2 separate regions of the Homo sapiens genome follow, and region 2 is linked to region 1. The links come from fine-mapping of genetic effects on gene expression. A gene starts in region 1. The other region holds a variant in brackets. All regions are shown on one strand. Distances are between the middles of the regions.

Region 1 (16,228 bases):
CTGGCTTTGGGCCCTCCAAAAGCAAATATGCATTAACACTTCTTTCCTATTGGCCGCAGGGGGTCTGTGAGCAGGATCAGGAAAGGTGCTAGGTCTCAAAACTGAACACAAGGGCAAACATAGATTGGGTCCCAGCCTGCCAATCCGTCCACATATCTGTCAACCACCAGATGGACTGCAGTAGGTTCCAGGACTTGGCCAGAATCTCCCTGAGAAGAGGTGGATGAGAAGCACATAGAGTCCAGGCTAAGTACCCCCTACTTAAATTGTTTACAAAGGAGTCTAGCATTCCTTAGCTCCTGGCTCCCCAGCTGTGATTAAAGCTGCTACAGACCAGCTTATTGATGCCTCCGCCTGGCACATGGGATGGGCTATACTGGCTGATGATCACAGGTATCAATGTTAAAATGGAATGTGTGGGTTTAAGATTTGGGTCACGAGTCTAATGCTGTCACCCTTCAGCTGGCTGAGCTGTGAATGCAGGCCCAACCTGAAAACAATCTGGGAGCAACTCTGGCAAAGGGCCTAGACTTGCCCCTCTTCCTGGGGAGAAATGCACCTTTCTAGTGGTGATGGTTTCAAGGGTGTAGAGATACATGTGTGCCAAATTGCATGCTTTAGCTACATGCAGTTTTTATGTCATTTACACCTTAATAAAGCTATTAAACATTTTTAAAAAGAGGGAGAATTGTGTCTCCTATACCTCATACATAATTGGCACTGCTTTTTCAGTTATGAGAAGTAGAGAGATGACATAGTTCCCTGGGACTAAATGTTCTTACCTGTGAATTGGCAGGAAGGGAAAAAAGATAGGGTGTGTGCCCCTAAGACAGAAGTTCTTCCCTGAGGGGATGTACCTAGCCTGACCGTATCAACAGTCAGACATGCTGCTAGGTACCACATGTTACTGATTGCCATGTATTCCTATATTCCTACACACATTTTATCCTGCCTCCTGCTGAAATCAATGATGAATCCTTGCCCCACCGTTGTCAGAGCAAAGAGAAAAGGTATTTCCTATCTTTGCTATCACATCCTCTACAACTCCTGGCAGTGCCCCCTGTATAGAAGAGAGGCTCAGGAGCTCTTTGGTACATAGGTGAGTGAATGAATCGATAAATAAAAAGGTATCAACCTTCAACATCTTGGTATACTTTAGTTCTTGCTTGGCTGCCCAAAGTCGAGATGAACCCTGAACTCCTGAACTTCAATCTCCAGAATACTCTTTTTTTTCTTTTGAAACAGAGTCTTGCTCTGTCTCCCAGGCTGGAGTGCAGTGGCACAATCTCGGCTCACTGCAACCTCCACCTCCTGGGTTCAAGTGATTCTCATGCCTCAGCCTCCTGAGTGGCTGGGACTACAGGGATGCACCACCAGCCTGGCTAATTTTTGTATTTTTAGTAGAGACGGGGTTTTGCCATGTTGACCAGGCTGGTCTTGAACTCTGACCTCAGGTTATCTGCCCACCTTGGCCTCCCAAAGCCCTGGGATTACAGGCAAGAGCCACCACACCTGGCCATTTTTTTTTTTTTTGGCTCCCTGACCCCCTGCTTTGTGTCAACTGTCAGAAATTTGACCCAGGATTACAGGTGTCAGCTAGCTAGAGAGTGGCTCAATCTGACCACTCATGGCCAGATGTGTCTACTATGTACGTGCATAGTGGGCCACGGGACCCCGCAAGTGGCTTCTCTGCCTTGCCATATAGCTGCAAAAGGCTGGATGAGGGTCTGTGTGTCCCCTGAGTGAGAGAAATCAACAAAGGCGTAACAGTGAGGTTCAAGCTCCAGGTCTCTCGGGTCTCTGCTGCCCAGAGTCAGCCCCGGTCCCAGCTCCCAGGTTGCTCTGGCTTTTCCTCCAGGCAGCTTTGGGGATAACAGTGAGGGCTCTCCCATCTTCTAAGACTATCTGTCTCTACACAAGATAAGGCTGATAGAAAAGCTAGTCCAGGACAATGGGGAGGGAGTGGGAGTCCCACCCAGGACTGGGCCGAGGGCTTCTTAGAAGCAGACAGGTGGAGAGCAAGGCGATGCAGAGCAGCTTGGAAGTTTCTTTTCTTTTTCTTTTTTTTTTTTGAGACGGAGTCTTGCTCTTGTCACCCAGGCTGGCATGCAATGGTGCGATCTTGGCTACTGCAACCCCCACTTCCCAGGTTCAAGAAATTCTCCTGCCTCAGCCTCCCTCCCGAGTAGCTGGGATTACAGGCACCCACCACCACGCAGGGCTAATTTTTGTATTTTTAGCGGATACGAGGTTTCACCATGTTGGCCAGGCTGGTCTCGAACTCCTGCCTTGTGATCCACCTGCCTCAGCCTCCCAAAGTGCTGGGTTTACAGGCATGAGCCACCACACCCAGCCGGAAGTTTCTCAAGGAACCTGTCTGTCCATAGGCTGGACAGAGCTATGGTGAAACCAAAGAGCGGACAGCCCAGACAACCTCAGAAACAACCCAGGTTTCCAGCAGATGGGGCAGTCCATGGCCAAGAAGCACTGCATGATGGGTTGGCTAATTCCCCAGTACCCCAGGGATGACTGAGGGGCCAGAGGAGAGGCCAGCCGAGAACCATGTGGACCACCAAACTATTCCTGGAACATGGGGGCATAAAACTCTTTTACCTCATAAATCATTTTTATTTATTAATATTATTATTATTCTTTTGAGATGGAGTCTCGCTTTGTCGCCCAGGCTAGAGTGCAGAGGCTCGATCTCGGTTCACTGCAAAGCCCGCCTCCTGGGTTCAAGCGATTCTCCTGCTTCAGTCTCCCAAGTAGCTGGGAATACAGGCATGTGCCACCACACCCAGCTAATTTTTGTATTTTTAGTAGAGATGGAGTTTCACCATGTTGGCCAGACTGGTCTTGAACTCCCGACCTCAAGTGACCTGCTGCCTTGGCTTCCCAAAGTGCTGGGATTACAGGCGTGAGCCACCACGCCCTGCCAATATTTATTTATTAATTGCTAGCAGATTCCCTCTGCCAATCCCAACACCTCATTCCACATCCATGTGGCATCAAAGCCCCAGTCAGTGGGCAGGGGGAGTCACATTTCCTTTAAAAAATTCCAGTCAATCCTTTTCAGCCACCCTCAAGTTTCCCTTCTAAGAACTGAACTATTTTTCTTTAGTTCTCAAACTTTAGAGATGATTTCTTAAATTATTCATTAACTCATTCAATAAAAATTTTCCTGAGAACCTCCCTCTGCATCCAGAATTGTGTCAGAAATTGAGGAAGACGCAAAGATCTAAATCCACCACAAAGTTTGGTACTACATGTATGTACTTTAACTTGAACAAATTAAAAAAATCCAAACAGGACACCTGAGGTTCCAGTCTTCAGTGGAAAAAATATGACTAGTAATTCAATACCAGTGTACTTACAAACACCTTTATGTATGATTTGGGGCAGAGGGCAGGCTTAGAGACATTTAGCAGGCATGGGACTAGATGCAGTGGTCAGCAGGCCAGGTTTGGGTTGAAAGACAACAGGCCATAGAAAAAGCCATTAGAATGTTGATGCAGCAACTTCCAGCAGTAGCTGTTCACCTGGGAACAAGCAGCTCTGAACTTCAAGTCAAGCATTCCAGTAGCCCAAAACAAAGATCTAAGCATTAATCTGGCCTCCCTGCAAAGACTGACAACATATAAGTAGGTGAAAGGGCACATAACTCCTTTGAAACTGCTAAGACAGCTAAATAAATAGTCTAAATATTAAAAAACAAAAGGCTGACATTGGCAGCAAGATAAGGTCAGACCCCCTGGCACAGCTGGCCTTTGGGAGCTCATCAATGCCACCATCACTCAGCCCAATGTGGGATGGAGGCAGCAAAGCAGGAACAAGTGACTAGAGTAAGCCGGGGAACCCTCAGGGGTCAATGTAAAACTCCAAGAGATGCCATGTGCTTCTTCTTGCTTCACTACTTCCCTCTTCTTTAGGCAGCCCCAAGTAGAATTTGTAGGGATTCCTGTGTCATGTTCCCCTCTGTGGCCTCTGCCTGCAACCTCAGGGACAGCCTCTGCTTTCATAGTACTCACTGGCTTCCGGGAAGGTAACACACCCACCTGTGAGGCTAGGACCCAGGATTTGTGGCAACTGAAGGTTCCAATTTCCTGTGGATTCATGGGCCAGAAAGCACAGTTGGCTACCTCCAAGGAGTGCCTCTTTTGTCAAGCCATGATGCCTCTGGACACTGAAGCTATGTCACTAGCTAAGAAATCCCAGTGGGGCTCCGGTCACACTCCCACTACATATATGTGGAGAAAGCAGGTCCAAATGCTGGGGACATCAAATTTCCAAAAAGAAAAAACACACACATGCACACACACTTGGATCTCCCAGGGTAGCTCTCAGACTCCATTGAAGGGTGATGACGCCAAGAAGCAACACAGTTGGGATCTCCAGAGCCCCTGTAAGCCCCTCTGAGGCTCCAGGAGGGGAGGCTCAGCACCAACATCCAGCAGGGCTTGAAGCTGTGCCAGGGCCTGTGGCACTCTCCCTCTCTATGAACTCTCCCCTCTCTGTGAACTCCGCCGTCCTGCTGGGTGGTTTCTTGCTGCTGCACTGGGGCCTTCAGCTCACTATTATGCTGAGCTGAACACCCTAGGCTCACGGAGAGGCCTCCTCTTCTGGGAAGCCTTCTCTAACCTGCGAATTGGTCATCTGCACATTTAGTGAGCCTATCTATCAATGAGGGCTATTCACTGGCTACTTACTCAATGCTGCTGAAACTTCAGGGAGCTAGAGTGCCAGTGTCTAAAAAAGACACAAAACACATACATCATTAACATCATGTTCCTACATCCAGCTCCAACAACTGCTCCAACAGGTTCGGAGGGGACAGACAAAACCACCCAGAGGGAAAATCCAAGGGGATGAGAAATGAGAAAGGCTCCCCTACACCCTATGACCTAAGGCTGTATGCTTTAACTAAATCTGGCCGACAGCCTTGCCTCATAATACCTGAGAAAATATTCCAGGTCAACAAGTCACCCTGAACCCATCTTCAGATGAATGGATCTTAAAGAGTGACAACTGACGGCCTGGCGTGGTGGCTCACGGTTGTAATCCCAGCTTTGGAGGCAGAAGCAGGCAGATCACGAGGTCAAGAGATCGAGACCATCCTGGCCAACACGGTGAAACCCCGTCTCTACTAAAAACACAAAAATTAGCTGGGCGTCGTGGCTCACAGCTACTCGGAGACTGAGGCAGGAGAATCACTTGAGCCCGGAAGGCGAAGATTGCAGTGAGCCAAGAACGCACGACTGCGAAGGTTGCAGTGAGCCAAGAACACACGACTGCGCTCCAGCCTGGTGACAGAGGGAGACTCTGTCTCAAAAAAAAAAAAGACTGACAACTGACCATGGGAAAAGGCAAACAATTACTTACAGGGCATGACCAGATTGTCGTTTTTGGGTTGTGGACGGTAGGGGAAGGAGTAACTAGAGGAAAAAGGGAAGAGGCAGTTGTATACACATGCTTTATTTAACTTTTAAAAGTTCAGGAAAGAGAAGTATTTCTTCTCTTCTAAAAAGAAATCAAGAGACTAGAGGAAAAACGGGATAGCCCCTGGCCCAAGTCCTGGCTCTGCTACTTACCACCCCCAACCCCAACTAGAGTAAGTCCTGGACACACAGGGCCATAGAGCATCGCCCAGGGACCGCCAGGACCTTCCTGGTACCCTCTTCAAAGTGGCCATCAGGACGGGAGGCCAGACTGACCACCTGTGCAGGGAGGAGCACACTGTGGCTGGAGGTCACCTCGTGAAGCGTTCCCAAGCCACCTGGCTGGAGGGTCTCCATCGCTAGGGTGTTGACCGTTGGGGGAGGGGGAGTGACAGCGTCCAGTGCGCATCTGGGAGAGAGGAGCTCGGGTTCAAGGACCGCGACAGGTCCTCCGAGCCCTGGTCTCAGCCCCAGCAGGGGCCGGCACCCACCTCGGTCACAATGGTGGACAGGTAGACGTCCTGACTGAACTCCCAGCCATCCAGACAGCTCTCCTGCTCCAGCTGCCCCAGGTCCACGTCGCGCCCCGGCTCCAGCCCAAGCGCCGAGAAGTTGGCGATGGTGGCGAGCCGGTAGCGGCGGCAGCTGTGGGGCACCTCGCGGCCGTCCCGCAGCCGCAGTGGGACAGTGTGGTTGCGCCAGGCGCTGCTCAGGTTCGCGGCGTCCGGCACCCGGCAGCGGTGCTCCGGGGTCGCTATCAGGAACACGGAGGACAGGCCGGTGAAGCCATTGGGGATGATGCTGGCGCTGAGCAGGAAGAAGATGAGGCGCTGGAAGGGCCCCCACTCGCCCAGGAAGGCGGTCACCTCGTCGTAGTCCCGCATGCCGCCCTCAGAGGCCCACAGAGCGCGGCCTGGGGTCGGGGAACGCGGCGGGCTTTGCGCGTGCGCGCGGGGCACCCGCCGCCGACCAGGCAAGCCAGGCAGCAGGCGACCCAAGACCGTCCGCGGAGGGTAGGCTCGCGAGCTGACACCGCCGCCTTGGTCCTGCCGCGGCTGGCCTTACATAGGGCGCACGACCAGGGAAGGTTGCGGGCCTGGGCCGCAAGGCGCGCCCCGCTGGCAGGCAGAGCGGCGCCGGCGAAGGCGGAGCTGGGGCGGGACGCGAGGGCGCGGGGCGGGCCGGGAGTGCACCTGAGGCCCGGGCGGGGCCTGTCCTGGGGACCTGGCGAGGCCCGGCCTCTGCCAGCCAAGCCTGCTGGGGACGACCGAGGTAGCCCGGGCTCGGCTTAGGAAGGCAGCGGGACTCGAGGCCTTGGGGTCCGAGTCCGAACTCGCTCCTCTAGCGCCGGGCGGGGAGCGAGTGGGAGAGCGGCCGCGAAGCTCCAGTGTTGAAAACGCACCCCTCCCAGCTTTTTGCAAGGCCTACTTGGGGGCGGAGGTAAGGAGAAAGTCACTGGCCCAGGGTCTCACAGATAGTTGCTCTTGACACCGCCTAATCTTATAAGAGGGACGGGGATTATTTTGAACCTGGGACTGTTAACTACCCTAGTAGAGAGGCTGGGAGCTATGACTTTTCATTCTAGTCCAGATGCCCTTTCCACATTTTCGTCTGTAACAAGCCATTTTGTTCATGCAGATGTAAAAATTTAACTTCACGATTAACGATCCTAGCCTAGGGTTAAATATTCCCCACAGATTAGTTATTTCCGTGCAGAGTTTATTCAGAAGCTAACTGGAAAAAAAAAAAAAGCAGCGAGGTGATTCTAAAGCAGCAATGTTCCATAGGATAAGGAGCTACATTTGTTATGTTAACTTTTCTAGTAGCCATATTAATAAAATTGCCAGATTTAGCAAATAAAAATATAGGACTCCTAGTTAAATTTGAATTTCAGATATAGAATGAATAATTTTTAAATATTATGTCCCAAGCAGGAATATATAAAATAAAAATGTAACTGGTTGTCCTGTATTTTATTGGGCAATGCTGCATATTTAAAAAGTAAAAATAAAAGATGAAATTAACTTTAATGGTATATTTAATCAAGTATATCCAGAACATGATCATTTCATCATATAATCAATATAGAAATTATTGATATTTTACATTGTTATATGTAAATCATTGATCTTTTTTTCCCCTCCTCATACTAAATCTTAAGAATTCAGTGTGTTTCACAGGTTCTCAGGATTTGAAAAAAAAAAAAAAAGGAATCCAGTGTGTATTTTACAGCACATTTCAATTTGGACTAGCCACACTTTTTATTTTTTAATATTTATTTATTCATTTATTTATTGGAGACACGGTCCCACTGTGTCACCCAGGCTAGAGTGCAGTGGCACAATCATAGCTCACCGCAGCCCTGAACTCCTAAGCTTAAGTGGGCCTCCTGCCTCAGCCTGCTGAGTAGCTAGGACTACAGGCACATGCCACCGTGCCCAGCTAATTTTTTTATTTTTTTTATTTTACAGAGACAAGGCATCCCTGTGTTGCCCAGGCTGGTCTCAGACTCCTGGGTTTAAGCAATCCTCCCACCTCAGCCTCCCAAAATGCTGAATTACAGACGTGAGCCACTATGCCTGGCCAGACTCATTTTTTAAGTGCTCAGTAGCCACATGTAGCTATTGGTTATCTTATTGGACAGCACCATTCCTAAGGCCTTTAAGAATTTGGGCTGCTAAACTTAACAATGCAAGATATTCCTTTTTAAAATAGTAGTGGCTTAGTGATAGAAACAGAACTAAGTGTATATTTTTACAATATAATGTGTTGAGTAAAGAATATTTAATAGTCACTATATTATGAGTTGAAAATAAAGCTACAGAAAGGGAACCTAACCTGGCCAGCAGATTTTTAACAAGGAAATCTAAACATTTGCATAAAGCATAATAGACTTAAAAAAATTATGATAAAGATGTTATCACAGGACTTGTTTGTTTCTTTATACTTACTATTCACTATTCTTACTTCCTGAAGATGGATGGTTATACCTTCAGCAATGTACTTAAATCCTTCTAACATCTTATGTGAAGTTATAGTTCTTATCTAGAACTAACTGAAAAAGAAAGCAAAGCTTCTTGAAAATAAACTCCTTTTTTGTGTGCTAAAATATTATTTTAATGCTTCAAAAGAAATGAAAGCTTTTATGAGAAGAATGTTGACCTCTGTCCAGACCAAACAAGATGAAGAAGTCTTATTTTAACATTTGAGAAATATCAGTTGGGCATCAGATAACATTCCTGAAAGGGACTGAAAACAATGCAGTATACTACAAAAGAAGCTGCATATCCTTAGGAAGAAAAGAAACTATTTGTCATAGATGGCTTGTCCACATGCGCAAAGCAGAGAGCAACCTAAGATGGTGCCGTCCAGTTCCAGGTGCACTGTGATTACTATCTGAATGCCATTACTATTTAAATTGCATTTTTTTTTTGAGACAGGGTCTCCTTCTGTCACCCAGGCTGGAGTGCAGTGAGGTGGTCTTGGCTCACTGCAGCCTCAACCTCCTGGGCTCAAGCAATCCTCCCACCTGAGCCTTCCAAGTGCCTGGGACTACAGCCACGCGCCGCTACACCCAGCTATTTTTTTTGTATTTTTGGTAGAGACAGGGTTTTGCCATTTTGGCCAAGCTGGTCTCAAATTCCTGACCTCAAGTGATCCCCCCGTCTTGGCCTCCCAAAGTACTGGGATTATAGGTAGGAGCCACCATACCCAGCCTTAAATTTCATCTTTTAAAAGAGAAAGAGAGCTTAGAATCTTAATCAGTTACCTGAGGCCCTTTATCCTGCAATATTCTGAATTGGGATGTTCCTATTTTACATATTAAAAAATGTAAAACTGATTTATATGGTAGATAACCCTACAGTTCAGGGCTAGAACTTTAGATTAAATGCATTCATACCCTGGCAGATGTGGTAGCTTGCCTCCAAGATGGCACCCAATGAATGATCCCTGTACCAGGATTGGTCTATGTGACCAAAAGCATACAGCATTAGTGATGATACTTATATCACTTGGGTAATTACATTATAAAAGATGTCCATCATGGGTGTTCTTTTCCCTTTCTCTTGCTCAGAGACAAGCAAGCTGTCATGTTATAAGCAGCCCTTTGAGGGGTCCATGTGATGTCAAGGAATGAAGTCTCTAGCCAACATTTAATGAGGAACTGAGGCCCACCAACAACCTTGAGTGAGCTTGGAAGTAGCTCCTTCAGCATCAGTTGGGTGTCGAGATGACTACTGACAGCTTGACTGCAACTTCATGAGAGTCTTCTGGACCAGAACCACTCAGTTAAGTGGCTCCCAGATTCCTGATCCTCAGAAACTCTGAGAAATAATGAATGTTGGTTGTTTTAAAATGGTAAATTTTGAGGTATTATGTTATGTGGCAATAGATAGCTAATATATAAATTATTTGAATCAAACAATACGTTAAATTAAAGCTCAGAAGAATAAACATCTGTAATTCCTTAATTTGTTTTCCCTTCTATTCTACAGAATAGAATTTTACAGATGAACCTTGTAGTTACTTGTGCAATAAGAGACAGTATGTTGTATTGATTAAGTGCAGAGCCTCTGGATGTATGATAGAAGAAAGACCAATATTCAATTGCTTTCTTCTTCAATTCCAAGCTTGTGAGCTTGAGCAAATTTTAAAAGTGTTTTAAGCCTCAGTTTCCTGGGATGGTAGTGCTTAGCTCGAGCTCCTAGCATATATTAACTACAAACTAAATATTAGCTATAATTATTAGTTTTACTTTGATTATTGACTCTAAATAAATACCTTAAGAACTTTGTGTTCTCCACAGATTTGGATATGTCTGGACGTTATGTAGGCTGGAGTAGTCAGCAATTACTTGCCTGAGGAAGGGAAGGCCTCCTCCTTTAAGAAAAGAATAGGCTGGGTGCGGTGGCTCATACTTGTAATCCCAGCATTTTGGGAGGCTGAGGAGGGTGGATCACCTGAGGTCAGGAGTTTGAGACCAGCCTAAGGAACATGGTGAAACCCTGTCTCTACTAAAAATACAAAAATTAGCCAATTGTGGCACGCGCCTGTAGTCCCGGCTACTCAGGAGGCTGAGGTGAGAGGATTGCCTGAGCCTGGGAGGTGGAGGTTGCAGTGAGCCGAGATCGCGCCACTGCACTCCAGCCTGGGCAACAGAGTAAGACTCCGTCTCAAAAAAAAAAAAAAGAAAGAAAGAAAAGAGTAGAAGGCCCAAGCTTAGTCCAATATTATAGCTTCAGCATCAGAGTAGAGAATGATTCAGAGCATCTGTCCAGTGTCTGCTGTAGATCCCTCAAATCCGTGTTTGGACGCTTCTGGTAAGGGGTGTATGGCAGATGCACCCGACAGATGCACTTGGCAGCAATAACTTATGCATACCTGAAGAATGACCCTATGGTCTAAGAAGAATGTGTGTTCAGAGCTCCAAGCTAAGGAATCTGGGAGTGGCCAACCCAGATATTTCATTTCTTATCTATGACGAACTTCTGAACTGCTCCCACCCCCAGCCCATCCTGTAGAATGCAGGCCCTACGAGGCGATCAAAGCCCTTTGTTTTAGGTTAAATGAAGGTTGCCTGGTGGAGGTTGCTAGGGGAAAGGTGTTAAGTAAAAATGTTATATAAACTGCATGGTGTTTTTTGTTTGTTTTTGTTTTTTTGAGACAGAGTTTTTGCTCTTGTTGCCCAGGCTGGAGTGCAATGGTGCAATCTCGGCTCACTGCAACCTCCGCCTCCTGGGTTCAAGTGATTCTGCTGTCTCAGCCTCCCAAGTAGCTGGGATTACAGGTGCCCACCACCAGGCCCGGCTAATTTTTTGTATTTAGTAGAGTCAGGGTTTCCCCATGTTGGTCAGCCTGGTCTCAAACTCCTGACTTCAGGTGATCCACCTGCCTCAGCCTCCCAAAGCGCTGGGATTACAGGTATGAGCCACCACGCCTGGCCAATTGCATGCTTTTTACAAGGAGTTTTGGTTCTCCTGCCCAGCCCACTGCCACTGGACTGCCCTGTATTGTAAGTCCCCTCAATAAACCTTATGTCTCAGTTTCTGGTTCTAGGTCTCTTCTTCAGCCTCTTGAACATGGTGCCATCCCTACTGAAGTCAATGGGGTCTGACATGACTAGGGGAACTTGAACAAAATCTGAAATAGCTGTTTTTTTCTTGCCAAAATCACTGTAAGACATTATTTGCCTCAGCCCCAGAACATTGAATTATATGACCCAAGAGTGGAGAAACAGAGAAGTCTGTCTGTGTCATCAGACAATATCCCAAGTGGGATGTCATCACCCCAATGCATATTGGCATTTGGGCAGAGTAGAGCAGCGTCAGCCTAGCAAGACTTGGCACAATTCTGTTGGATTGCACAATAGAATGAGAAATCACATTTCTGCTGTTATGTGATTCTGCATTTTAACTCCAGTTTGTTTGGCCTGGACAGACAGGTAACTAGCCATGAAGACAATGGACCTTGAAACATTCTGAAGACTAGAAAAAGTATGTAATAAAATACTTTGAACAACTGTTTAAGGACTTAAATGTCCAGACTGTTTCTTTAGATGAGTGTAATTTCCAATGTGAAACCCCACAATTCGGCTTCAAGAGGTACAGGACAGTTTTTGAATTCCACAGAAAAAATTTTGCATTGCAACAAACTTGACCATCCTATTTGTGGTAGTAGAAATGTAAATTCATTCCCCTCAGAGATACCTGCAAAAATGAAATGTGAAATATTCTGCTTGCATTTTAAAGACTGGTTATTGCATTCTAGAATAGATGGAAAAGACATTAGTGAGGGCCAATATAGAAATATGAGTTTTCCCAAAAGACTTTTATGTATATATATGACATGGCAGGAAAATTGGGTCACTAGTGGTTTTTACTTCTTCGTTCATTTGGCAAACATATGAATAGACTGATGTGTGCCAAACACTGTTCCGAGTTCTGGGAACTGAGGAAAGAAACAAGCTATCTGTTTTCATGGAGCTCGTATTTTACTTGGAGGATGGAGAGGCTGACAATAAACTTGTACAAATAAATACAAACTTCAAGTAGTGGTAATTGCCAAGGTGAAAGAAAAGAGAGTAATGGTATAGAATGACAGTCATTGGGTAGCTGCTTTAGATGAATGGTAAGTGAACATGTTTCTGAGAAAGTGATATCTGAGCTGAGAGGCAAAGGACGAGAAGGAATCTGTCATGTGAAGATCTGGGAAGCAGGTGTACTAAGCAGAAGAGCAGCAAGTACAAAGACTGTGAGGTAAGGGATGTGCTCGGGGTGACTAAGTAACGGAGAGAAGACCAGCGTGACTAGAACATAGTGATCAAAGTGAGTAATGTTGGAACATAAGTCAGAGACATTGGCAGGAGGCCAGTTTTTATGGAAGCCAAATTGTCTAGTGCCTTGTAGATAGTGGCAAGGAGTTTGGATTTTATTCTAGATGGAACACTACCAGAATATTTTTTCTTTTTTGAGACAGGGTCTCACTGTCACCCAGGCTGGAGTGCAGTGGCATGATCTTGACTCTCTGCAACTTCTGCCTCCTGGGCTTAAGTGATCCTCACACCTCATCTTCCCCAGAAGCTAGGACTACACGCACCACACCTGGCTAATTTTTGTATTTTTTGTAGAGATGGGATTTTGCCATGTTGCCCAGGCTGGTCTTGAATGCTGCCCACTTTGGCCTCCCAAAGTGCTAGGATTATAGGTGTGGGCCACCGTGCCTGGCCTATCAGAGTATTTTCAGGCAGAGAAAAGCATAAGGTCTTACTTCTAGCATAAAAGGAACATTCTGGCTGCTATATAGAGAAGGGACTGTAGAGGACAAGAATGAAAGCAGGTTGACTGATTAGAAAGCATTGCAGCATTATAGGCAAGAGCTTATGATGGCCTGAACTAGAGTGGTAACTGTGGAAGAGATAAATGGATGAATTCAGAATATTTTTGGAGGAAAAAGGTGACATGATTTACTATTGGATGTGGGCATGAGGGAAGGAAATTAAGGATGACTCCTGGATTTTTAGCCTGAGCAACTTTATAGCTTTTCATGTTTGTTTTTGAAATGGGGAGATTTGATGGGGTGGGGGTTTGGGAAATTAAGAGTTTTTTATTTTTATTTTTTGCTTTTTAAAAATTGTGGTGAAATACACATAACATAAAATTTACCATTTTAACCACTCTTAAGGGCATTAAGTACATTCACATTGTGCAACCATCACCATCATCCATCTGTAGAGAACTCTTTTCATCTTGCAAAATTGAAACTCTGTACCTATTAAACACTAACTCCCCACTCCCCTCCTTACCCTAGCCCCGAAAACCCTTCTATAATACAGAAGTCTCTATGAATTTGACCACTCTCATAAGTGGAATCACATAGTATTTGTCCTTTTGTGACTCGCTTTTATTGTCACTTAGCATAATGTCTTCAAGGTTCATCCATGTTGTAGCATATGTCAGAATTTCCTTCCTTTTTAAGACTGAATAATATGCCATTATATATGTATACTACATTTTGTTTACCCATTCATCCACTGATGGACACTTGGGTTGCTTCCATCTTTTGCCTGTTGTGACTAATGCTGCTGTGAACATGTATGTACAAGTATCTATTTGAGTACTTGCTTTTAATTCTTTGGGTATATACCCAGAAGTGGAATTGCTGGATCATGTGGTAATTCTATGTTTAATTTTTTTAAGGAATTGCCATACTGTTTTCCCCGGTAGCTGTACCATTTTACATTCCCACCAACAGTGCACAAGAGTTCCAGTTTCTCCACGTCCTCGCCAATACTTGTTATTTTCTGTGGTTTTGCTGTTGTTGTTGTTTTGTTTGTTTTTGTTTTTTTACAGAAGCTATCCTAATGGGTATAAAGTGGTATTTCATTGTGGTTTTATTTGCATTTCCCTAATTATTAATTATGTTGAGCATCTTTTCATGTGCTTATTGGCAATTTATATATTTTCTTTGGAGAAATGTCTACTCAACTCTTTTGCCCATTTTAAAATCAGGTTTTTTTTTTGTTGTTGTTGAATTGTAGGAGTTCTTTACATATTTGGGATATGAACCACTTATCAGATACATGATTTGCAAATATTTTCTCCCATTCTATGCCTTTTCACTATTGATTATATCCTTTTACGCACAGAAGTTTTACATTTTTGATGTAGCCCAATTTTTCTATTTTTTCTTTTGTTGCCTGTGCAAGAGTTTTATTTTAAATGCAATTTTGGGATGTCTATTAGACATCCAAGTCAAAATGTCAAATAGACGGCTGGATATATGAGTCTGAAGGTCATAAAAGAGATCAGAATGAGATATAAATTAGGGAATCATTCACATATAGATGGTATTTAAGGCCATGGGTCTGGACAGAATCACCCAGGAGAGAAGTCATATAGGAACACATAGGTTTCCCTAGGGAATACAGTCATCTTAGAGTAAAATTCCATCGAAGGAGATCAGGAGGTCTTGGCTGAGTTAAATTTGGATAATATAAGTTATTAACTATGTTAATGTGTTCTAAGCTAGATGCCAGGTTAAGGCAGAAATTAGGAGGTCCTGGGCAAGTATCAATTTGCTCTGCTATTGTATTATTACAAGAATAATACTAACAATAGTACATGACCTCATTTCATCCTCACAATAGCTTTACGCGATTGATATTCTTGTCTTCACTTTACAGGCAAAGAAACAAAAGAGAAGTAAAGTAATTTACCCAGTTGCTATAGTTAGCATGTGGTAGGTCCATATTAGAGGTCTGGTCTGTCTGCATGATGGTTAATTTTATGAGATAGCAAGTAAAACATTATTTGTGTCTGTGTCTGTGTCTGTGAGGATGTGTTCGGAGAGGTTCACAAGCATTTGAATCAGTAGACGGAGCAAATAAGGTCCGCCCTCACCAATGTGGGCAGGCATCATCCAATTCACTGAGGACTCCTGCTCACACAGAACAAAAAGTCAGAGGATGTGCCTATAGTTCCAGCTTCTTGGAAGGCTGCGGCAGGAAGATGCTGGGGCCCAGGAGTTTGAGGCCAGCCAGGGCAACATAGCAAGACCTTTCTCTTTAAAAAAATTTTTTTTGGCTGGGTGCAGTGGCTCATGCCTGTAATCCCAGCACTTTGGGAGGCCGAGGCAGGCGGATCATGAGGTCAGGAGATCGAGACCATCCTGGCTAACATGGTGAAACCCCGTCTCTACCAAAAATACAAAAAATTAGCCGGGCGTTGTGGTGGGCACCTGTAGTACCCGCTACTCAGGAGGCTGAGGCAGGAGAATGGAGTGAACCCCGGAGGCGGAGGTTGCAATGAGTGGAGATTGCACCACTGCACTCCAGCCTGGGCGACAGATCAAGACTCCGTCTCAAAAAAAAAAAAATTTTTTTTTAAGGCATAGGAAGGGCAAATTCTCTCATTCTCTCTCTTCTTGAGCTGGGACATCCATTTTCTCCTGCCTTCAGGAAATCAGAGCTCCATGTTCTTGGATCTCCCGACTCTGGGACTTACACCTTACCCTTTTCCCCTCAGTCTTTCAGACTTGGACTGAATTACACCATCACCTTTCCTGGTTCTCCAGCTTGCAGATAGCATGTCATGGGACTTCTTAGCCTCTGTAATCATATGAGCCAGTTCATATAGTAAATCTCCTCCTATTGATCTATACCTATATCTGTAATCCTATTAGTTGGGTTTCTTTGGAAAACTCTAATACCCCCTTATCCACAGTTTTTTTTTTTTTCTGCAGTTTCAGTTATCTACGGCCAACTGGGTAAACCAAATAGGTGAGTACAGTACAAT
Region 2 (16,821 bases), 66 kb after region 1:
ACAAAAAGCTAAGGGAATTGGGGAAAATGGAAAATAAAGAGGAGGGAAGTTGCAAAAACCAAGCCTGGGGTAAGACTGACCCTAGACTATCCTGTCCACGGGCCTGCCTGCTTGCCAGACGGGGCTCCAAAACTGGCTCTGCGTATCCCAGCAGCTCAGCTCTCAGAAGGGTTACAGTATCCGAAGTAGTCTGCTTATTCGCAGAAGCACAGTTGTTCTGAATACTGAGATCCGAAAGAAGTGTCTCCTATGTACTTCTTCCACAAAGGAGCCACTCTGTGATGCTGAGGATAATGTCCTCGAGAATAGTCCTGTCCTAGAGACAATAGCAAGATTCATGAGGCCGCCTGTCACAGTGCTCAAATGCTGGCCACAGGCAACGCCCAACACAGCTCTGCAGAAGAAAAACAACTCGGGCCAGGAAGTTAGCGCTCTGCTGCTCAGGCACAATCCAAGGATAAATCTCAGACTGTACCCAGAGCAGGATTGCCTCGCCTGGGGCTCTTGCATGGGCTTCAGGAGAAAGGGAAATGAATCCTCTAAAACTGTATGGCCAGATTAATGTGTTCTGCCAGTCCATAGACCGGAAGTGGTAAACAGGACGTGTGCCTGCATTCATGGCCATCTCCCTCCAAAAATAATTGTCCAAAGCTTCAGATAAAAGCTTGGGTTCTGCTTCTGACTTAGAGAGATGAGCAATTGAGGCCCAAAGCCTCATGATGTGGTGTGACCCATTTTGCAGAAGATTAAACTGAGACTGTGAGAATGGGATTTGTCTGAAGTCATAGCAAGTAAATGAGCATGATAGATACCTACTTGGGCCTCAGAACCCAATCTTGTACCAGTGTCCTGCTTTGGACCTATACTCCCTAAGGCAGGACAAAATGAGCTTATTAAATATGATGCCCTACACTTCTTCAAGGAATGTGATACCAGGAGACAATTACCCAGGACTAGGAGTAGAAGGCCTCCATCACAGCCTTTAGCCTCAGACTGAGCCAAGAAGAACTCAAGATTGGTAGAGGCATTAACATGCCAACCATCATCATTCCATCTGCAGTTGAGCAGAAAAGCTCTTTCAAATATAATGTGCTCTCCTTTGTAGTCTGTCAAATATTTTTCTGTCTGGACTTTGCCTTAGGGCAGGATAGATAGGATTTAGAGATAGAAAGGAATGGAAGGCTGTTAGATGTGGAGCCAGGCATTGCATGAGCAAAGGGTAGGACTGGGAACTGGCTACTTAATTTGCAAGGTCCAGGGCAAACTGAAAATGCAGAACTCCTTGGTCAAAAATTATTAAGAATTTCAATACAGCAATGGCAAAGCATTGAAACCAAGTGTGGCGCTCTGTGTGACTGCACAGTTGCATGCCCATGAAGCTGGCCCTGGCAGGGGATCAAACCTGGCCTCCAGGAAATGAAGCAGATGCAGGAGTTCTGAATGGGGACACTGGGAAGGGGGGTGAGGTGAGGGCCATCTCCCATCATTCTCCTTCCTGTAGGCTCTGCATCGATGGCTTTCGGTCCCATTCCCTCCCTGAAGAGGGGCCCAAGAAGCCCTGTCAGCATCATGCAGCACAGGAAGAGCCATGCACACGCAGTGGCCGTTTGCCCCAAGCCCATGAGGGGTGCCATCTGCCTTTGGAGACCCTGCTTACAACCAGCAGGGGAAGGCAGCTAGACTGCATGGCTGCCCATGGTTGATTCTAGGGCTGGGCTCTCCTTTGGGGAGTTATGGTGCCGCAAGTGTCTTTTTGGAAAGCTGTGAGGGGCCTGGTATTAGGACACAGGATTGGCAGATGAAGTTCTACCTGGAGCGAAGGGCTAGAGTCCAGTAAATCAGCTGCCAGTCCTAAGAGGGGTCCTTTAGAAAAGGCTTTTCTTAGGAAACCGGCCCTGCCTGCCCCTGGGCCCTTCAGGTTTGAGGGATATGTCTTGGGTCTCCGCTAGCCAGGGCCACAAAACCTCCCTGTGGTTAACAGTGACATGGCGGGCCCAGTGGGAGACAGTGTTTTCCTTGATGGGACAGACCTGTCCCTGTGGGTCCCTGCACATGTTTGTACATACATGCACACACACATACATACACATGACCAGCTCAGAGGCTAATGGCAGATGTCCTGGTAAGGAGCTGGCTGGCATTGCTTTGGGGGTGTGCTTTCAAGTCAAATCCTAACATTTCTGAAACATAGCTTACCTCCCCTCTCCCTGCCCCTCTGATGGGGCCTCCCGGGGTTACTATGTCTGTCCCATCAGCAGGGTCCCAGACCAAGGTTCTCACAACAGAGCAGAGTGAGCTCCATTTAGCTGGGCCGCATGGCCTTCAGCTCTAATTTAAGAAACAAAAATCCAGGTGACAAGGTAATAGGGGATAGGAGGTCACTCTTGGCATAGAAGGATGTGCCGCTTCCCATGGCTCCCTATAGTAAAGGGAGTAATGGGAAAGACAGTAACAGTGTGTGGAGTGCTCACTGAGTGCCGTGTATTATCTCAGGGGATCTCAGGGTTGGCATGTGAGATGGGTACTCTTATCCTTGTTTTACAAATGAGGAAATGAAGGCACAGAGCAATAAAGCAACCAGCCCAAGTTCTCCTAGTGAATTGGTAAAAAAAAAAAAAAAAAAAAAAAAAAAAAAAAAAAAATTGCTTAATCATTGATTCAACTGACATTCAGCACCTACCTGCTCCAGGCCAGGCTCTGTGTAGGGCACAAGAAAGACATGGTCCCTGCCCTCACAAAGCTCAAGGTCAAGCATACTTTACAGGACAGATGTGCACATGTGCATGCATGAGGCCAGCAGCCCTGGGTGGGGTGGGCGCTGTTCTGGGCCACTTCACCCTTGCTCTTTGGCTAGAGAGGAAAGAGGCACCCCCTCCTCACCATCCTCCAGCAGAAGGACAGAGTTCTAAAACCTGAATAATCCGTATAATCATATTTTAGATGACTAGTGTTTGCACAGTGCTAGGCACACAGTGGGTGCTTAACAAATTGTTGAATGAATATTGAACAATTAATTAGGAGTCATAGAAAATCAGCCTGGAAAATGTGGTTCTTGGGCTGAGGAGTATCACGCATTGCACTTGGAAAATCACCCTCAGCCTTGAACTAACTCTCCAAGTAGCCAAAGTCTGGCAGTTTTAGTTTTTACCAGAGCTATAAAGGACCATAAAGATAAGTGAACCCCGTCTGACCTGCACGGAACTGAGAACGCTGGAAGGTAGCCTGGTGTTCAGCAAAGAACACAGGCTTTCTCGGGGTCTGCAACTTTGGACTGTGTGATGTTGGGCAATCCATTCACCTCTATTAGCCTGCTTCTTCACCTTCAAAAAGATGACAATAATACCTGCTCCTAGGTTTGTTGTGTGCATTGGATGGGAAATATCAGTGGAGCGTCTGACACATTACAGGCCTCATTAAATGGTAGTTCCCTTTCTACCAGGCTCATACTAGTAGAGCATTTTATTTGTCCTGAGCAAAATCATGACTTGGAACACATGGACGAATAAGCAAAGCAGGTTACACTTAAATCTGACTAAGAGAAAGAAATTCTAAGAAATAAAAATTATTCCAGTCCATTACTAAAAGCTAGAAAAGCTCTTATAAAAGGGATTTGATAAATGGAATTCAATCCCAGAGATGACTGTGAGTGAAAAATTAGCAATGGTCCTTTTAAGAATAAAAGATTGATTTCTATAGTATCCTCTCATAGTTATCCTTTATTCTAGAGAAAAGTAAGAAGTAGTAGTTAATAATGGACTATACATCCACCCCAGTTCTATCTTTGTCACTTGATTGTGACTTAAAGCTGGGAATTCCTTGACAATATGAAAAAACAAAACAAAGAAAAACAAAAACAAACATGGCTAGTTAATTACTTTTTTGTAACAACTTTATTGAGATATGATTTATACACCATAACATTTACTCTTTTAAAGTATACAAATCAATCATTTTTAGTATATTCACAGACTTCAGCAACCATCAGCAATGATCTGATTTTAGAATTTTCATCACCCTTGAAAGAAAACCCATACCTGTTAGCAGTCACTCCTCATTCGCTACTTCCTCTAGCCCCTGGAAACCACTAATCTACTTTCTGTCTCTATGAATTTGCCTATTCTGGACATTTCATATAAATGGAATCATACAATATATAGTGTTTTATGACTGGCTTCTTATACTTAGCTCCTTTTCTAAGTCCATCCATGTCATTGTGCAGTGTATCAGCACTTCATTACTTTTTATGGTTTAATAATATGCCATGGTTTGGGCTGGGTGCGGTGGGTCACACCTGTAATCCCAGCACTTTGGGAGGCCGAGGCGGGTGGGTCACCTGAGGTCAGGAGTTCAAGACCAGCCTGGGTAACATGGTGAAACCCTGTCTCTACTAAAAATGCAAAAATTAGCTGGGCACGGTGGCACGTGCCTGTAATCCCAGCTACTTGGGAGACTGAGGCAGGAGAGTTGCTTGAGCCTGGAGGTGGAGGTTGCAGTGAGCTGAGATCACACCACTGCACTCCAGCCTGGGCAACAAAGTGAGACTCCATCTCAACAACAACAACAACAACAACTATATATATATATATATATATATATATATATATATATATATATATATATATATATATATTTCACGGTTTGGGTCTACCACGTTTTCAATGATCTGTTCATCAGTTGATAAGTAGTTGGGTTGTTTCCACTTTTTGGCTACTATGAATAATGCTGCTGTGAACATTCATGTACAACATTTTGTGTGTACATGTTTTCATTTCTTTGGGGTATATACATAGTAGTGAAATTGTTGGGTCATACGGTAAGTATATACTCAACCTTTTGCAGAACTCCTAATCTGCTTTCCAAAGTGGCTACACCATTTTACAATCCCAACAGCAATGAATGAGGGTTTCAATTTCTCCACATTCCTACCAGTACTTGTTATTGTGTGTCTTTAATTTTAGTCATTGTAGTGGGTGTAAAGAGGTATCTCATTGTGGTTTTGATTGCATTTCTCTAATAACTAATGTTGAACATCTTTTGCATTGAATCTATTGATCAATTTGGAGAGCACTGCCATACTAACAATAAGTCTTCTGCTCCATGAACAGAACATGGGAAGCTTTTCCACTTGTTAAGGCCTTCTGGAATTTCTTTCAATGACATTTTATAGTTTTTAAAGTATACATTTTGCAAATTTTTGGTTAAATTTATTTCTGAAGTGCCTCCTTTAATATTTCTTGTAAGACATCACTGCTAGAAACAATTCTCTCAAGTTTTGTGTATTTTTGAATTTCTTTATCTCAGTTTTGAAAGACAGTTTTGTTGGATGCATGATTCTTGGTTGACAGTTTCTTTTTTCCTTCAGCACTTAGAATATGCCACTCCACTGCCTTCTGTCCTTTATGGTTTCTAATGAGAAGTCAAACGTTGATCTTATTGGAGTTCTCTTGTATGTACCTAGTCATATATTTGCTGCTTTCAAAATTTTCCCTTCGTTTTTGTCTCTTTTTTTATTTAAGCAGTTTTACCATGATATATCAGGGTGTGGATCTCTTTGTGATCATTCTATTTGGAGTTTGTTGAGCTTCTGAAAGGTGTAGATTAATGTTTTCCACCAAATTTGGGAAGTTTTCAGTCATTATTTCTTTGAGCATTTTTTCTGCCCTTTTCTCTCTCTCTCCTCTCCTAGTAATTCTATTATGCATATATTGCTATGTTTAATGGTGTTCCCCATTTCTCTGAGACTCTATACATTTTCTTTATTCCCTTTTTCCTCTCTGTTCTTTGGATTGCATAATTTCCAATCCTCTATCTTCAAGTTTGCTGATTCTTTCTTTTGCCTGTTCAAATCTTCTGTTAAGGCCCTTGAGTTACTTTTAAATTTCAATTATTGTATACTTTTACTCCAGAAGTTCTATTCAGTTGTTTTGTTTGTTTAAGAGACAAGGTCTCTTTCTGTTGCCCAGGCTGGGGTTGAACTCCTGGGCTTAAGCAATCCTCCTACCTCAGCCTCCTGAGTAACTGGGACTATAGGCACATGCCATCATGTCTGGCTCAGCTTTTAAAAATATAAATGTAATTTTTCTCTCTTTATTGCTATTCTCTATTTGATGCAATATTGTCATCATACTTTTAAAAGCATGACTTCCTTTCATTCTTTGAACATATTTATAATGGCTGCCTTATGCCTTAAAGTCTGTTAAAATCTGACATGTGGACCCTCTCAGGCAGTTACTGTTGCCCACGTTTTCCCCCCATGTATAGGTCATATTTTTCTGTTTCTCTGCATATCTCGTAATTTCTGGTTAAAAACTGGACATTTTAGATAATATATTGTAGAAATTAGGTACTGTCACATTCTTCCACCCCCATTTCCCTGATCTTTCTTCTTCTTCTTTTCCGAGATGAAGTCTCACTCTGTTGCCCAAGCTAGAGTACAGTGGCATGATCTCGGCTCACTGCAACCTCCACCTCCTGGGTTCCAGCAATTCTCCTGCCTCGGCCTCCTGAGTAGCTGGGATTACAGGGACCTGCCACCATGCCCAGCTAATTTTTGTATTTTTAGTAGAGATGGGGTTTCCCCACATTAGCCAGGCTGGTCTCAAACTCCCGGCCTCAGGTGATCCACCCGCCTTGGCCTCCCAAAGTGCTAGGATTACAGGCATGAGCCACCACGCCAGTCTGATCTTTCTATTAAGCTGTCTGTGTCTGCTGGTATCACACCCAGCTGTTAGCCTCACTAATTGCTAGCCAGTTGCCTCATTCATTTCAATAATGCCCTGGGGGCATATATTGTCCCACAGTCTAATCCAGTTGACGTCAAGCCTCTTTGCAGTGGTAGTTTTTGAGGCAAATCTATAAGGTTTGTTTTGACTCCAGAAGGGCTGCTCTTAGCTGTCTCTTTCTTGTTTTGTTTGTTTGTTTGTTTTCTGTTTTTTCCTGGTAAACTAGCTGCATTATGGGTTCATTTGTTGCTCTAATGGAGTTACCAGAATCCTTTTAGTTGCTTACCACTAAATTCTCCATTGTTCTTGAGAGCAATCTTAGGCTGTCCTTTCACACACTCTATTTCAAATAAAGTTCGTTCCTGTGGGGACAGCTTTAGAACTCTGTTCTTTTGGATTATCTCTCCCCGCTGGGCAAAATATCTGAGCTCCTGTTGTAGAGAGGTAGGCAGGGAAAGCGGCCCATTTATCTCAGAATGACACCCCTACTTTATGAGTCAGACACTGAGTGGAAGTGGGAGCTTGGTGTGGAATCTCTGCCGTATGAATGAGCTGGGATAAGGGCAATCAAGGCTCTAATATTCTCAACTTGTGGCACCTGGAGTAGAGTCTCTACTATATGAATAGGCGGTGGGTGGAGGATGGGAACCTATGATCCCCTGGTTGCACTCACGAGGATTTTACCTTCTGTGGTTTGGAGCTAAGAGAATACAGGGATGGGTGGGGGATGGGCATTGGTTGTCCCTCTTGGTGGGCTGCTGTAGCCCTTCCTTGGAAGCTGATGGGAGAGAGAACAGTATTTTCTTGGCCATACCCACCTAGAGTGGAACTTCCATTTTTCTTGTGCTGGGAGGAAGGGGAAGGGGAGGGCTGAAGGAGTTATGACTCAAATATCATAGACTTCACTGTTCTTGCCAAGGTATAGTCGACTTTCTTGAATAAATATATGCCCTTAGGACAACTTCCAGAGACTCTAAATGTGTGTGTGTGTGTGTGTATTTTCACCAGTTATGGCTGTTTCACTGAGGAGCTGGTCTATGGCGCTGGCGCTCCTCACACTGCTAACTTCGAAGTCTCAGAATCTTTTCATGTGCTAATTGATTTGTATTTCTTTGGCAAAACATCTATTCTCCAAAATGGGCAAATGATTTTATCCATTTTTAAATCAGGTTGTCTTTTTATTGCTGAGTTATCAGAGTTATTTTTATATTCTAGATACAAATCCTTTATCAGATATATGATTTGTCAATATTTTCTCCCATTTTGTGGGTTATCTTTTTGGCTGTTTAATTCTTCTACTCATATTTTCATTTACAAACAACTAAGCCAGAAGGCTGCTAAGCCTTAAAATGTTCTCAGTATCTTTCTTTCTTTATATTAGAAAAGCTACCACAGATGGAAAAGCCTCACTGATGAGTTCTGTGATCATTGGAGGCTAAACCAAAGCAGAAGAACCAGTGAGTGTGAGTGGGAAGATAGGGATGGGAGTGGAGGGGCTGTGGGAAGGAGAAGGGTCACTCAGGGACCTGGCTGTGCCCCTTGCATCCTGACAATGGATCCACCACAGCTCTACCAGTCTGTATTAGGGGAACATGAGCAAATGGCATCGTGTCTGTGCCAGTCACCAAGCACTGAGGGGAAGCTCTGGAAGTTGCCGCCTG[A/T]ACCTGCCCTCCAGTCTTGCAAATGCTGAGCAGGAGCCACCAGCCTTGGACTGTCTGTGCTTCTTGCTAGAGCATGTGGGTCATTCCAGCCTTTCCCCAGAACGTCCATTCTCTCCACACCTTCTTCATTCCAAATGGGGATCCTTGCCTTTCTTTTGGACTCCAGAGACATGCATAAAACCACAACACAGCTTTAGAAAACAAGGCACACCTGTATTAGTCTTACACCTAAATTGAATGCAGCCTGCCATAAGGGAGGAATTACAGTCCTTCTAGAGGCCCAAGGTACCTGCAGCTCCCCCTGACCAGTCCTGTCAAAGCCTTGTTTTTGTCAAAATGCCACCTTGGACTCTGTCTGAGAGTTCTGCTGCCCACCAAGAGGGATGGACAAAGTCTGTTTATCCAGAAACTTGGCAGGAGGTGCAGGTGAAGCAGCCTCTGAACAAAAGCATATTCTGAGATCCTGGTGGCTGTTGTCAGAGGAACACAGCAGAGAGGCAAACAGTTTGGGGTGAGGCAGCTGATAAACAAACAGGGAAGCACATTCAGGCCAGAGCAAGGGGAAGCCCCTGAGTCTCCTCTATGTGCTCTCTGGCAAGATCTACTTTCTGAAGCATTGACTGGAAATAGAAGTCTCGCCGGGCTGGCTGGAGCCAGAGGCCCCCACACCTTATCCCCTTTGGAATCTGCCAGAGGGCAGGTCTGAGTATGGACTTGGATGATCAACTTGGTTAATATTCAGGCTATCTTGACAGTCTCCACACCCGTGAGCAATGTCCCAGGGCAGCCTGCAGGCCTGATAGAAACTCCACAAACCTGCCTATCACGGAAGGTTTTCCCCTTTTGTCGGGGCCTACCCAGACCCCAGGGGAGGTGCATCCTTGAGAGCCGCTATGTGAAGTCCCACATAGTGGCAGCCGCATGTGAGGGTTAGTCTGTTTCATTATTCCCTTGCTTGCTGCTCTCAGTGCCTCCCAGAAGTTCCCCGTTAGCAGGGGAAGAGGCCTTATCCTTCGCCACATAACCTGGCTCGCCTCTGGGTTATGGGTGGGGAATCAGTAAGTCCTACTGCTGTTCAGGCCCTGACCCCAGTTCCCAGGAAAGCACAAGGCTAGTGCCACCAGAGGTCCAGGCCCTTTGCTGGAGGCTCCATCAACTCCACTACCAGTGGGCTACCAGCAGCTCCACTAGGGTTCCTAGAGGAGGCAGCCCAGCTGCAGAAGAGGACAGGAGGATCTACGGTGTGGCAGCAGCCCTGTCTTAGATCACTGGTGGCCTGCAAAGAAGGCTGGTCCTTAACACACAAGGTTCCCCCAGGGCCTCTGGAGCACAAGACCTGGCAGAAGTGGTATCCAGCTTAGAGGTGACTGCCTCAGTTTTCCCAGCCCATGGACTGATGGGAAGGTCAAGACCCTAATGATGCTCCATGGGAGAAGAGGACATGCTTGAGGCAAAGGCCAGCCCATGCTTAGCCCCTGGCCACGAGCCAGGATTGCCTCTGCTGCTTGCCCTGTGGCCCTGCAGATGAACTTAGGCCCTCTCCAGAGCAGAGCATTTGTTGCCCTTCCTGCTCCTTTAGCCTCAGGGCAGGAGGCTGCCGGGTTTCCTCACACGCAGGGCCTCTTCTCTCTGAGGTCTTGGCCCTGAGGGCTATATATGAAGGGCCATGCCCATGGAGACTGAGATCTGACCCCTGCAGTAGGTCTCAGGGATGAGGACCCCAGCATCAGACACTCTGGGTTGCTTGGGGCACTTCCTTCCCCAACAGAAGCTTCAGTCCCAACCCAGGTCCCACCAGTCCCTGCTTGCGTTCCTGCTCAACTGCTGCCTGATGGAAAACTTAGCAACGAGCTGTGACTGGCACTCCTCCCGCAGGGGTAAACACAGACTCCTCTAGCCCTGACTGCAGAGACAGATAAAGGCCCTTACCCTGGATATCTACATTCTCTATCCTTAAAGTGAAAAATAACTTGGTTTGAGCTAGAATAACTGGAGCAACAAAATAAAGATGGATAGCATTAGTTTATAACTGATGAAATAAAATAAGTATGTATGAACCTGTACTGATATAAGTTAACAATTGCATACATTAATAAATAGATGTGGAGGGGAAGCTCTTCTTCTCAGAAGAATTCCAATTAATAAATGTTGAAGGAATCAGAAAATGCAAAATCATCACTAGGCAAACTGCAGTAATAATTGTTTCAGTCAAGACCTAGTGATGAATGCTAAAATCAGTGAATAAAAATTTGAGGAGACACAGGATTTTGTATAATCTCGAAGAACCTCCCTTAAGATATTTATTAGTGACAGAGGAAAAAATAGTACCTTTACAGCAGAGAAATTCCACAGACACCAACTTGACAAATGATCAAGGTTAACATCACCAGTAATAAGACACATCAGCATCATGTACCCACTGGTATGATGCCCAGAGAATGCATCACTTCTAAGGTATCATTACCAAAAAGTGCATAACGCAATCTAATTGTGAGAAAAATCATGCCAACCCAAACTGAGGAGCATTCATCAAAATACTCATAAAAATGTCAAGATCATGAAAGATAAGGAAAGACTAAGGAACAATCACAGATTGGAGACTGAGACATGACAACTAAATACAACATGGGATTTTGGATGGGATCCTACGATAGAAAAAGGGCAGTAGTAGAAAAACTGGTGAAATCCAAACAAAGTCTGTAGTTCAGTTATTACTATTGTAACCAATGTTAATTTCCTGGTTTGGATAAATGCATAACGCGTATTTAAATTGTTAACATCAGAGAAAGCTAGATGAAGGGTATATGTGAAATCTCTGTACTATTTTCAAACTTCTCTCTAAATCAAAAGTTATTTCAAAATAAAGTTAAAAAATAATCGCCAGGCGCGGTGGCTCACGCCTGTAATCCCAACACTTTGGGAGGCCGAGGCAGGTGGATCACCTTAGGTCAGGAGTTCGAGACCAGCCTGGCCAACATGGTGAAACCCTGTCTCTACTAAAAATACAAAAAACAAACAAACAAACAAACAAAAAACTAGCCGGGCATGGTAGCAGGCCCCTGTAATCCCAGCTACTCGGGAGGCTGAGGCAGGAGAATCGCTTGAACCAAGGAGGCAGAGGTTGCAGTGAGCCGAGATGGCACCATTGCACTCCTCCACCCTGGGCAACAAGAACGAAGAAAGAAACTCCATCTCAAAAAAATAAAATAAAATAAAATAAAATAAAATAAAATAAAACGAAAAATAATTTGACTCTTAGTAACTGCACAGGTTGAAAAACTTGGACCTCACAATCAACCCCTGAAGAAGGAAACTACCTTATACACATGTACACACACAGACGAATGCACTCACGCAAACCCCAACTCAGACACCTTATTGCTACCTCCTGGCATACTATGAAAGGCATTTCTACAGCACAGCATGCCATCCTTGGTTCCTGGCTAACCCTGTCCTCCTGTGAAGAGGTGTTGGGGGGCAGTTCAGGCAGACTTGTCTGTCCCCAAAGATATGCCCATTGGGAGATCCTGGCACGGCAGTATAAGGCAAAGACACAATCTGAGGACAGTCCCACTACCTGTGTTGTGCCAACTGGGATGCAGAGAACCTTCTCAGGGGCCCTGGGCTTGGCCCTGTACACTGGCACTGGCCAAGTCAGTATGGGTTTGGACTTGTGTTCTATTCTCTGAGGCTTGGAACTGCCACTGTGGGGAGAGGGGCTCAGCCTCCAGCAAGTCCCATCACCTATTACACAGGCCACAACCTGGACTTTAGAACAGCTCCCACCATGCCCACTGTCCCCAGCCAGTGGAGAAGGCAAAGAAGGTGCTGAGCTTCTGCCTTTACCACTCCTCACCACCACCTAGGAAGCCCATTTGCTGGTGCCACACTCTTTGCTGGTGCCACACTCTGTGCTGGCCACCACCGGATGGGGCATGGGGCATTATCTCACTGAGTCCTCCCAACAACTCAGATAAGGTGGCTTCTCTTATTATCCCCATTTTGAAAACTGAGATAAAGTACACATAATATACAGTTTACCATCTTAGCCATTTTTAAGTGTACAGTTCAGAAGCGTTCACACTGTTGTGCAATCAATCTCCAACACTACTTTCATCTTACAAAACTGAAACTCTATACCCATGAAACAACGACTCCCTACTCCTTCCTTCTTCCAGTCCCTGGCAACCACCATTTACTTTCTGCTTCTGTGAGTGTGACTACTCCTGTAGTGAAATCAGAAAATAATTTGTCTTGTGACTGGCTTATTTCACTAAGCGTAGTCTCCTCAAGGTTTATCCACGTTGTAGCATGTCCTTCCTTTTTAAAGCTGAATAATCGTCCATTGTACGCATATACCACATTATGTTTATCCATTTGTCTGTGGAAGGACACTTGGGTTGCTTTCACCTTTTGACTATTGTGAATAATGCTACCATAGACATGGTGTACAAATATCTCTTTGAAACCCTGTTTCAATTATTTTAGACATATATCCAGAATTAGTATTGCTGGATCATATGGTGATTCTATTTTTAATTTTTTTAGGGACCACCACATTATTTTCCATAGTGGCTGCACCATTTTACACTCCCACTAGGAATGAACAAGGGTTTCAATTTCTCTACATCCTCACTAACACTTGTTATTTTCTGTGTTTAAAAACAACAACAACACTTTTTTAGAGGTGGGGTCTTGCCCTGTCACCCAGGCTGGAGTGCAGAGATATGGTCATAGCTCACTGCAACCTCAAACTCTTGGGCTCAAGTGATCCTCCTGCCCCAGCCTCCTGAGAAGCTGGAACTACAGTCACATGCCCTCATGCCTGGCTAATTTTTTATTTATTTTTTGTAGAGATGGGGTCTTACTATGTTGCCCAGTGCTGTCTTGAACTCCTGCCCCCTAGCAATCCTCCTGCCTCGGCCTCCCAAAGTGGATTTCTGGGTGTTTTTTTTTTCTTTTTGTAGTAACTATTTTTAAGGGTACAAAGTGGTACCTCCTTATGATTTTCATTTGCATTTCCCTAGTGATTAGTGATGTTGAGCCTCTTTTCATCGCTTGTACCCCCAATTTATAGACAAGGAAACTGAGGCTTTCATCAGTGATGTAACCTGCCTGGAGTCAGCCAGGTGGTTGGCAGTGGAGTCAAAACTGGCCCTCTACTGAGTCTGACTCCAGAACTCTGTGTGCTGCCGCCCCTCTGGGGGAGAGCCATCCATCCATCCTGCTTACCCTGGTACTTGCTTCCTTCCCTCCTCCTCCCAACCACCAGAGCCCAGTTTTTTGTTGTTGTTGTTGTTTGTTTGTTTGTTTTGAGACACAGTCTGGCTCTGTCACCCAGGCTGGAGTGCTGTGGTGTGATCTCAGCTCACTGCAACCTCCGCCTCCCAGGTTGAAGTGATTCTCCTGCCTTAGCCTCCCGAGTAGCTGGGACTACAGGGGTGCACCACCACTCCCAGCTAATTTTTGTATTTTTAGTAGAGACGGGGTTTCACCATGTTGGCCAGGCTGGTCTCAAACTCCTGACCTCAAGTAATCTGCCCGCCTCAGCCTCTCAAAGTACTGGGATTACAGGCGTGAGCCACTGTGCCCAGCCCCTAGTTGCTTTTTATTTTACTTCCACCACTCAAAAAGGAAGCCAGGAAGGGAAAAGCTGCCAAAAAAAGCAAATCCTGGTGCATGTGTGTGAATGTGTGATGATGTACATCCTTAGAGGTCCCTGTGAACAGCGTACAACATGAGTAGCTATGGACTTGGAGGCCAGCAGCTACTCACCCCTCACGCCCTACAGTGAACAAAACCAGCGAGCAATGGAAAAGCAGACAGGTCAGCCCAGCTGCCAGGGAAGGCTGCCACTCATGGGTCCAGCCTCCATAACAGGCACTGATAACACTTCCAGGAATCGACGCGGGATGAGCTGGCCCCCAGTCTCAGCTGCTCCCAGGCCATGCTGTGGGCAGGGAGTGGGCAAGCACTAGAGCCCCTGCTAGGGAAGCAAATCCAGAGAAGCATGGCCACCTTAGGGCCCAGGGTAGGTATGGTGCCAATGCTGGGGGATCCAAAGGCAGTCCCTGGGCTGAGCCCACTTCCCACAGGTGCCACAGATTCGACAACCACCACGCCTGGCTGGCCACCATTCTCTTGCAGAGGAGAGTTTCAAAACTTCCTCACTGGTCTTCTTGTTTATCATAGCAGCTAGAGTGAGCTCTTTCCAAAAGCACGAACCTGGCCTTAGAATGCTTACTATTTTCTCACTGTCCTCCGAATAAAGTCAGCTCCTCAGTATACATAGAAGGCCACTATGAACTAGCCCTTGTGGCCATTTCTAGTCTCATTTGTCATATCTGTCATCCCTTGAGTTCCAGCCACTCCGATATATGAGAATTCCATTACCTGAATTTCCCATACTCTTGCCTAGACAGGTCTTGCTCACATTTTCAGAATCAGCTAAAATCATATCACCCCTTCTTGGAGTATTTCCTCCACCTATTGTCCCACAGAGAGGGTGATTTATTTATCCCAGGTCACATAGCAAGCAAGGCAGGACTTGAATTTGGGTTCCAGAACCCTATTGCTAACCAGGGTTAATGTTAGCCTTCTCAGTAACACAGCCAGTGTGCCCCATGGGCATCTGAGGGTAGGCTCCACACACCAGATGTCCACACCTTAGTGCTCAGCACAAGGCCAGACACAATGTCTGATGACCGCTATACCGTGCTGAGGGAAAGGGATAAGGGACTAGCAGAGGCCACTCAGGTTTTTCTTGGGAGGAGCATGAGGCAGAGGAGGGACTAGCAGCAGGGAAATCCTACCTGCCTGACCAATAGCAGGCAACAGCTCCATGAGGATGCTCTCCTCAGAAGAAAGGTGTATCCTGACCCAGGTCCTTACCAGATGTGAAGCAGCAAAAGCGGGAGAAGTGTGTGTGCATCCTCATTCCTGGAACTTAGAAAACCTGCCACTAACCACGCAGGGTGCTGAGGGGCTACAGCCCCTGCCTGCCAACTCACCCTGTGCTCAGAGAGGTCCCTGAGGGCCAGGGCTTCCAGCTGGGGTTTCGCCTTCTGTGCTTCCTTGCACCCAATGAGCCTCAGGAGGCCATCTGCTGTCTTAGAGAAACTGGGGCCTCAGGAAAGGACCCCAAACCTCACAAGTATATGGTACGGCAGTACACCTCCTGATGCCTCCAGAAGTCTGTGGCCAGGGAACAGACAAGATTTGGCCCCGCCCTGCCCAGTAACAAGGTCCCTCACACCCCTCCTCCCATGCCTGGCAGGAAGGTGACTCAGGCAGTGCGTCTGGGTAGCCTGGGGCTGCGCTTCCCCCAACGCAACATCTAGGTTCTTAGGAAACTTCATTTGTTGTGAAAATCGGAAATGAAAAGACAGTTGGTGACAAACTCCTTTCTCCATCACCTCCTTATTGGACAGAAACGACCCAGGAATGCGCCTCGCGTGAGTCCTATTCTTTCTTGGGGTGCACACCCGCTGCTGGAAGTATGAACAGCAGGTTTGAGGGGGAGGGGAGCGCTGACCCGGGCACTGCGCAGGGAGTCTCAAGGGGGGCTGACGCAGAGGGAGGGTCAGGCACTCCCGGGTCAACGGTCTCGGCCTGGCACCCACCTCGGTCACGACGGTGGACAGGTAGACGTCCTGGCTGAACTCCCAGCCATCCAGGCAGCTCTCCTGCTCCAGCTGCCCCAGGTCCACGTCGCGCCCCGGCTCCAGCCCGAGCGCCGAGAAGTTGGCGATGGTGGCGAGCCGGTAGCGGCTGCAGCTGTGGGGCACCTCGCGGCCGTCCCGCAGCCGCAGCGGGACACTGTTGTTGCGCCAGGCGCTGCTCAGGTTCGCGGCGTCCGGCACTCGACAGCGGTGCTCCGGGGTCCCCGCCAGGAACACGACTGACATACCATTGAAGCCATTGGGGATGATGCTGGCGCTGAGCAGGAAGAAGATGAGGCGCTGGAAGGGCCCCCACTCGCCCAGGAAGGCGATCACCTCGTCGTAGTCCCGCATGCTTCCCACTGCCGCTCCGAAACTTGCAACTACGGGTGATGACAGCGTTCTCAGGACAGTGTCTTGTAGCTGGGGCGCTCCCCAAGGATGTTAGAACGTTCCCGGGGGACAGGCAGGCTGTTAGAAATTGGGGCGCGAAGCCGGGGACCGTTCCTGGGAAACAGGCTGAAGGCGTTGGAGCGTTCCCGGGAGCTCGCGCTGAGCTTGATGCCACTGTACACTTGGGACCACACCCCCATCCCCGGCCGGGCGCGGGGAAGGGGAGGGCGGCCCAGCCCGGGAGGCTGGGCTCCCGGCTGTCTCCGCCCTGTGCTTCGCGCGCCCGCCCGCCCCCAAGGACCTGACGGGGGCTTCCAGGCTGGGCTCAGCCATTCCGCCCGCGTGCCGGGGAAGAAGCTCGTTCTCGGTTGTCCCCAGCCACCC

The links. PIP is the estimated chance that this variant, and not a neighbour inherited with it, causes the effect.
Region 2: its variant is fine-mapped to the expression of SLC22A5 in whole blood (INTERVAL, PIP above 0.99).

What each region holds. Positions count from the first base shown.
Region 1 is chr5:132,360,064-132,376,291 of GRCh38, reverse strand. It overlaps SLC22A5 (solute carrier family 22 member 5), which reads right to left and starts at 6,582. Exons shown (of 10, transcript NM_003060.4): 1 at 5,927-6,582. The coding sequence starts at 6,319. It overlaps MIR3936HG (MIR3936 host gene), which reads left to right and starts at 6,376. Exons shown (of 8, transcript NR_110997.1): 1 at 6,376-6,448; 2 at 9,511-9,724; 3 at 11,265-11,357; 4 at 16,176-16,212. It overlaps MIR3936 (microRNA 3936), which reads left to right and starts at 10,693; the gene lies at 10,693-10,802. RefSeq lists a silencer at 6,380-6,699.
Region 2 is chr5:132,294,194-132,311,014 of GRCh38, reverse strand. SLC22A4 (solute carrier family 22 member 4) reads right to left here and starts at 16,621. Exons shown (of 10, transcript NM_003059.3): 1 at 16,006-16,621. The coding sequence starts at 16,398. RefSeq lists silencers at 16,454-16,503, 16,574-16,821. The variant A/T (reference allele first, on the strand shown) is at 8,384.